2 linked regions of the Homo sapiens genome follow. The protein of the gene in region 1 purifies or fractionates together with the protein of each later gene. This does not show direct contact. Each region holds a gene or a part of one and is shown in the gene's direction. Other genes may lie near its edges.

Evidence for each region.
Region 2: the proteins of SH2B1 (region 1) and FRS2 purify together in Homo sapiens (co-immunoprecipitation; one study listed by IntAct). This does not show direct contact.

The regions. Positions count from the first base shown.
Region 1 is NC_000016.10:28,866,798-28,870,617, forward strand, and holds part of SH2B1 (SH2B adapter protein 1), read left to right. Parts: coding exon 1-236; intron 237-533; coding exon 534-635; intron 636-2,208; coding exon 2,209-2,300; intron 2,301-2,410; coding exon 2,411-2,586; intron 2,587-3,820. UniProt on the Homo sapiens protein: Adapter protein for several members of the tyrosine kinase receptor family.
Region 2 is NC_000012.12:69,564,324-69,568,143, forward strand, and holds part of FRS2 (fibroblast growth factor receptor substrate 2), read left to right. Parts: exon of another isoform or gene 1-2,317; intron 2,318-3,820. UniProt on the Homo sapiens protein: Adapter protein that links activated FGR and NGF receptors to downstream signaling pathways.

The DNA.
Region 1 (3,820 bases):
GGGGAGGGGGCGCCTTGAAGGATGGAGCAGGGATGGTGCAGAGGGAAGAGCTGCTGAGTTTCATGGGGGCTGAGGAGGCAGCCCCTGACCCAGCCGGAGTGGGCCGGGGAGGAGGGGTGGCTGGGCCTCCTTCAGGGGGAGGAGGGCAGCCTCAGTGGCAGAAGTGTCGCCTGCTGCTTCGAAGTGAAGGAGAAGGAGGAGGAGGAAGTCGCCTGGAGTTCTTTGTACCACCCAAGGTGAGGCCCCTTGGAGGGTGGGTGACTGAGAGCAAGTGAGAGAGTGCTCAGAGTGGTCACAGCCCTGCAGATAAGCTCTGGGGTTTACCAGCCCATGGCCCTGGTGTCGCTCACTTTTTGTTGGTAAAGCTGGCTCTTGGCTCTGTGTTAGCAGCTGCGGGCAGGACTGAGAAAGCAGTGTGACTGCCTTTTGTCTAACTTCCCGAGGATGTAGAAGGAAAGATGAATGTCTGGAGGGAGGGGAAGAGTGGTCTTTGGAAACCAAACACCCAGATCTGTTTCTTTCTCCTGACTTAGGCCTCTCGGCCCCGACTCAGCATCCCCTGCTCTTCTATCACAGACGTCCGGACAACCACAGCCCTGGAGATGCCTGACCGGGAGAACACGTTTGTGGTTAAGGTAGGAATTCAACTTCCCAGCCGCCGGCAGTGCTTGTGTTAAGGAGAAAGCCCTCAGCGCATTTAAGCAAGTGGCGTCGCCGAAAGGAGGTATATATATGTGTCCAGTGCCTTGAGAGTGTGTCCCTGGGGCTGCAGCTTTTCTGGGATAGCGGAAGACAGGGAAATGTTCTTACTCTCAAAAACAATGCCTCCACTTGAAAGAGAACTGTGGAGTTTTTGTTGTTGTGGTTGTTTTAGAGAGACAGGGTCTCCCTCTAAGTCAGGAGTGCAGCAACCTGATCATAGCTCACTGTAGCCTCGTGTAGCCTCGAACTCCTGGGCTCAAGTGATCGTCCTGCCTCAGCCCTCTAAGGAGCTGGGACTACAGGCATGTGACACCATGCCTGGCTAATTTTGTTACTTACTTACATTTGAGATAGAGCCTTGCTCTGCCGCACAGGCTGGAGTGCAGCGGCGCGATCTTGGCTCACTGCAACCTCTGCCTCCCAGGTTCAAGCGATTCTTGTGCCTCAGCCTCCTGAGTAGTTGGGATTACAGGCATGCACCACTATGCCCAGCTAATTTTTTGTATGTTTAGCAGAAATGGGTTTTGCCATGTTCGGCAGGCTGGTCTCAAACTGGCCTCAAGTGATCCACCCCACTTGGCCTCCCAAAGTGTTGGGATCACAGGCGTGAGCCACTGTGCCTGGCCTTATTTTATTTTATTATTTATTTATTTTTTTTGAGACAGAGTCTCGCTCTGTCGCCCAGGCTGGAGTGCAGTGGCGCGATCTCGACTCACTGCAAGCTCCACCTCCCGGGTTCATGCCATTTTCCTGCCTCAGCCTCCCGAGTAGCTGGGACTACTGGCGTCCGCCACCACGCCCGGATAATTTTTTTGTATTTTTAGTAGAGACGGGGTTTCACCAAGTTAGCTAGGATGGTCTCGATCTCCTGACCTCGTGATTTGCCCGCCTCAGCCTCCCAAAGTGCTGGGATTATAGGCGTGAGCCACTGCGCCTGGCCTATTTTATTTTATTTTATTTTTATTTTTTATATTTTTGAGACGGCATTTTACTCTGTCTCCCAGGCTGGAGTTGAAGTGGCATGATCTTGGCTCACTGCAACCTCCGCCTCCCGGGTTCAAGCGATTCTCCTGTCTCAGCCTCTCGAGTAGCTGGGACTACAGGCGCCTGCCACCACGCCTGGCTAATTTTTGTTTTTAGTAGAGACAGGGTTTCACCACATTGGTCATGTTGGTCTCGAACTCTTGACCTTGTGATCCACCCTCCTTGGCCTCTCAAAGTGCTGGGATTACAGGTGTGAGCCATCGTACCCGGCCTCGCCTTATTTTATTTTTCAATTTTTTTAGAGACAGGTTCTCACTATGTTGCCCAGACTGGTCCAACTCCTGGGCTCAAGTGATCCTCCAGAGGTGCTGGGATTACAGGTGTGAGCCTCTGTACCCGGCCTCCAGAGAGAATTCGAATGCATCTTGTTTGTAGACAGCCTGCATACATTGTTCTCATTAGGCATGGATTAAGCCTCCTCCCTGCCCCTGCCCCAGCTGAGGCGTCGTCTCATCTCTGTAGGTGGAAGGTCCATCCGAGTATATCATGGAGACAGTGGATGCCCAGCATGTGAAGGCCTGGGTGTCTGACATCCAAGAATGCCTGAGCCCAGGGTGAGAAGCCTGACTTCTGTCGCTAAGGGACATAGAGTGGGGTTGGGGAGCAGCCTTGCGCCTCTCACCTGGTGACTTTCCTCCCAGCACCATCTTCCCTGTCTCTGCAGACCCTGCCCTGCTACCAGTCCCCGCCCCATGACCCTCCCTCTGGCCCCTGGGACCTCATTCCTTACAAGGGAGAACACAGACAGCCTGGAGCTGTCCTGCCTGAATCACTCGGAGAGTCTACCCAGCCAGGACCTGCTGCTTGGACCCAGCGAGAGCAATGACCGCCTGTCGCAGGGTAAGGGTGGAGCCTTAGAGAGCTCGGAGCCTCGGAACCTGCCATGCGGGGCCCCTGCTGTCAGGCGCCATGCCCTCTCCAGACGCCACTGTGCCCCCATCCCTGTTTTCCAGATGCCCTACCCCAACCCCACCAAATGTTGGTCTTTGATCCCTGAACACAGCCACAGTTTGCTGTTTAGAATAATCATGACCCCACGCAGGCCCCAAGCAAACCTTAGCCAGGCTTCTGCACCCAGCCTCGCCACTTTTTCAGTCAGCGTCCTGCCAGCCACCGCTCTGGCTGGAAATAATGGTGGTTTTCTCCAAGCTTCTGGAACACTTTGTAGAAATCTTTGTTTTGTTCTTACTCTGCATCTCTGTGTCTGTCAGGGGCAATCACGTTTTCTCTTGACTCTGTACTTTTTGGTCTGACCAAACACACATACCCGACCCACACACACAAACACACAAAGATGTGTCACCCAGTCCCAACTCATATTTCTAGATTCGGCCTCCACTATAGCCTTTTCTCCTGACCCTCTGTTCTGAGTTCCAGCTGCACAGTGCCTAGCACACAGGCTGTATTCAGTGAATGAACACATGAATCATGGAATCTTAGATCTAGAGTGGACCTTGCATCTCATCAGATCTTAGTAGCTAAGACCAGGGAGAGGACACCTGAGGGTCACTGAGGAAGACAGGGGCTGCGCCACCCTGTTTCCCAAGCCATGCTGTCTGTGCACCACACGCCTGTCTTCTGAGCACTGCCTGCCTATGACATTTGTGTAGGCAGTGGCCTGCTGTTGGACAGACTTGGAGGATGGCCCTAGTGCATACCTGGCCCTGCTCTGTGTCCCGGGCCAGGATGGGGTAGCTAGGATGCCTGAGATGAGCTCCTTGTTCTCTAGAGGCTTTCAGCTGGGTTGACATCACTCCCTATAGAAAGCTTAGTGTCCCCTGAGCAGCACAAGCAGGAATCACGTTGGGAGCTCAGGAGGAAGAGAGCAGGGGAAGGTGGGAGAGACAGGGACTGCGACGCCGAGGAGAGGAGAGGACATGCCTGGGGACGTGAAGGGCAAGAGCAGAGACCTGCGGGGAGGGCCCAGGATATGGGGACAAATTGGATGGGAAATTGGGTTAAAGTGGAAGAGACATGAATACAAGGTAAGGTAAAGCTCAAGTTGGTGTGGGTTGGGGGAGTAATAGAAGGAGCATCTTTGATGCCTCTTAAGAGTTAGGGGCTTTGTCCTATA
Region 2 (3,820 bases), on another chromosome or scaffold:
ACAGACCAGTCTTCATACTATCCTTGAGCCAGTGTTCAAGAGCTTAAAATGTGACATGTGTTCTAATGTTTTACCTTCTCCCTCAAACACATACTTATGTACTTAACTATTGCACTTGGACATTTCCCTGGGCTCTCAGTTTAACATATCTGAACAAATCATTATCACTTCCTCTTGAAGACTACAGTTTTTTGTATCTCAGGTAATAGACCCCTGGCACCCTTTGTCTGCCATGCTGGAAACTGCCTCTGTTTTCCATTATGTCAAGTCAGTTCTTTGGTGCCACTGACTTTTCCTCTTAAATGTTCCTTAAATTTATTCTTTTCTTCTTCATTCCTACCATTGCTGCTCTTGTTTTAGGTTTTTATCATATTTCATTTTTTAATAATCTCAAACTGATTTTCTTTCCTCTGAGCTAAACTCCTACTTAAATTTATCATACATATGTTTATTTAAAATGCACTTCTGACCGTCTCACTTTTCTACTTAAAATACATCAGTGGTTTTCCATCATGTGTAGGATAAATTCCTTTCTCTTTGGCATGGCATACAAGGCTTTCATATCACATATTAGGCATTTCATTAATTATTGTTGTATTGAACTCAAACATTCAGTGTGGATAGAGTCCCCAAGTAGGTTGCACTGCCACTCATATATCACTTAATGGTGGAGATTCCTTCTGAGAAATGTGTCATTAGACAGTTTCGTCACTGCGCAAACGTCATAGAGTGTACTTACACAAACCTAAATGGTATAGCCTACTATACACCTAGGATATATGGTATAGCCTATAGCTCCTACTCAACAAATCTGAGCAACATCACTGTACTGAATACTATAGGCAGTTGTAACACAATGGTAAGTATCTGCATTTCTAAACATAGAAAAGGTACAGTAAGAAAACTATAAAAGAGAAAAAATGGTACACTTGTATAAGGCACTTGCCGTGGATGGAGGTTACAGAACTGGAAGTTGCTCTTGGGTGAGTTGGTTAGTGGGTGGTGAGTGAATGTGAAGGCCTAGAATGTTATCGTACACTACTGTAGGCTTTATAAAACTGTACTCTTAGGCTACGCTGTTTGTTTAAATAATTTTTTCTTCAGTAATAAATTAGCTTACTATAACTTTTTTACTTTATAACCTTTTAATTTTTTGAAACTTTTTGACTCTCTTATAATATTTAGCTTAAAACACACACATTCTACAGCAGTACAGAAGTATTTTTTTATATCCTTTAAGATTTTTTTCTGTTTTTAAAATTTTTAATTTTTTTTTAACCTTTAAAACTTCTGTTAAAAACTAAGACAAAGACACAAACACACACATTAGCATGGGCCTATACAGGGTGAAAATCATCCATATCACGGTCTTCTCCTCCTACATGTTGTCCCACTGGAAAGTCTTCAGGGGCAATAACATGGAGCTGTCATCTAGGAAAACTGCACCTTCTTCTGGAATACCTCCTGAAGGACTTGCCTGAGGCTGTTTTACAGTTAATTTTTTTTTTAATAAGTAGAAGGAGTATACTCTGATATAATAGTAAGATACATAGTATAGTAAATACATAAACCAATTACATAGTCATTTATCATTATCAAGTATTACGTACTATACATAATTGAATGTGCTATAGTTTTATACACTGGCAGTGCAGTAGGTTTTTTTTTATACCAGCATTATCTCAAACACATGAATAATGTGTTGCACTGTGATGCTGTGATAGCTATAGTGTCAGTAGCTGACAGGAATTTTTCAGCTCCCTTGTAATCTCAGGGAACCACTGTCATATATGTAGTCTGTTGCCAACCAAACATTTGTTATGTGGCTCATGACTGTATATCCCTGCCAGCACGAGAGGTTCTACCTTAACAGGTAGCTTATGAAGATGCCAAGTGGAAGGATGATTTTCCTGCTCCTTTTGAGAAAAAAAAAAGTTTAAAAACATTCCTTTGGAGCATCATCTTTTGAAGCAAAAGCCATACTGTAGTAATCTTTTAGCTCTTCATATTTCACAAGGAGGTCGGGGAGAACAAATATGTACTTTCAAGAAGACTTTTAAAAAATGTCTCTATCAATTATCCCTTTACTTAAAATTTCTTATATTACTCATCCTATAATTTATTAATATTAAACATTTACTATTTTTTAAAAAATTAAATGTTTATAGAATATGTGCCATGTCTGAGGCAGGAGAATCTCTTGAACCTGGGGGGCGGATATTGCAGTGAGCCGAGATCACGCCATAGCACTCCAGCCTGAGCAACAAGAGCGAAATTCCGTCTTGGGGGATTTAAAAAAAAAAAGAATATGTGCCATGTAAGTTGGTATGCTTAGTGCCCTGGAAAATGAACAAGACAAGATTTCCTGTCTTTAAAGAGATCACAGCAAAGTGGATGGTGCAGAAAGATAAACATTGCAGTAGAGTACGATAAAGGCCACAATAGAGTTATGCCATTCTATTGTGGGAACACTAGAGGCAGGCTATCTTCGAGTTAACTGGAAGATCAAGTCTCAAATCTAGGGAACATGTCCCTAGCTTGTTCAGGCTGCTTTATGGTTGGGCCCCATTTGTCTTCCAGTCTACCCTGTAGTCCAGTCATACTGAACGCCTCACTTTCTCCTGAATGTGGTGTGACACTTCATGACTTTTGTCTGTCTCAGGTGCTTATTTCTCTTTATTTTGCTTAGCATGTTGTTTCTGCTCTTCTTTTAAATCCCAGCTCAATTAGTGCTTCCTGTCCTGCCTAACCCAGAAAGTTAGTTGTTCCCTTTCATGTGCCCACAGTACTCTGCTCATATCCTAATATAAGGTTTATCGCAGTGCATTATCTATTTACATCTCTCTCTCTCTCTTTCTCTCTCTCCCCCTTGATACTCACAGCTCTTCAAAGACAAAGATGGTGACTTATGTGTCCTTGTACTATGATACTTAGCTGGCATATTAGTTAAAGCAAAAATACCAAATATCATGAGTCTTAATTAACTTTACTATTATATGTTATCATATACACTCTTGGTTTATACGCTAGTACACTTTTTCATTTTCTTAATACTTATACCTGCTAGGGATCCTTCACATTTGTTTAATACAGTCCATTTAAATCACAGGTCCTATAGCACCTTCTGTATGCTAGGTATCGTGTTAGGTACTAGGAATGTAAAAATGAGTAAGGTTCATCCTTGCTGACAAGGGGCTCACAATGGAGGAGAAAAGACAGATAAACAGATACCTGCCACAATTTCTACTCAGTACAAAGTGTGATAGATGCTATGATACTAGGAAGCCCAGGGTGCTTTGGGTTAGCATATGCATGACGGTCATACATAATAGTATAACTTGCCTAGTTGCTTGGAGTCAGGGAAAGCATCCTAGAGGAACTGCACTTTGAGTTGAATCTTGAGAAAGGAAAGAAGCAGAAAGGGAGCAGCTTGGAAGGATGTGAGAGACCAGGATGCTCTGGGGAAACTGCAGCTTGTTTATTCTGACAGGACTAAGAATAGGGCTTGAAACAGAAAGCAGGGAGAGTCTAGACTGGATCTGTTAGACAGGGATTACATTGTATCTGATCGGATCTATCATACTGAAGAGTTTATACTGTTAAACTGAAGATAGTGGAGAGCCACTGAATAATTTTCAACAAGCTTCAATCAAATTTATGTTTGTAATGTTTTGTAGCTTCTGTGCTTCCTTCCCTCCTCCTTTTTCATATATTGTCATATTCTATCTGATTATTTCCCTTGTTTGTAAGTGATGCTTTGGAGTTTTCTTTGTCTGCTCAGTTGGAGTGTTCTTAAACACTCAATGTCAGGTATATAACC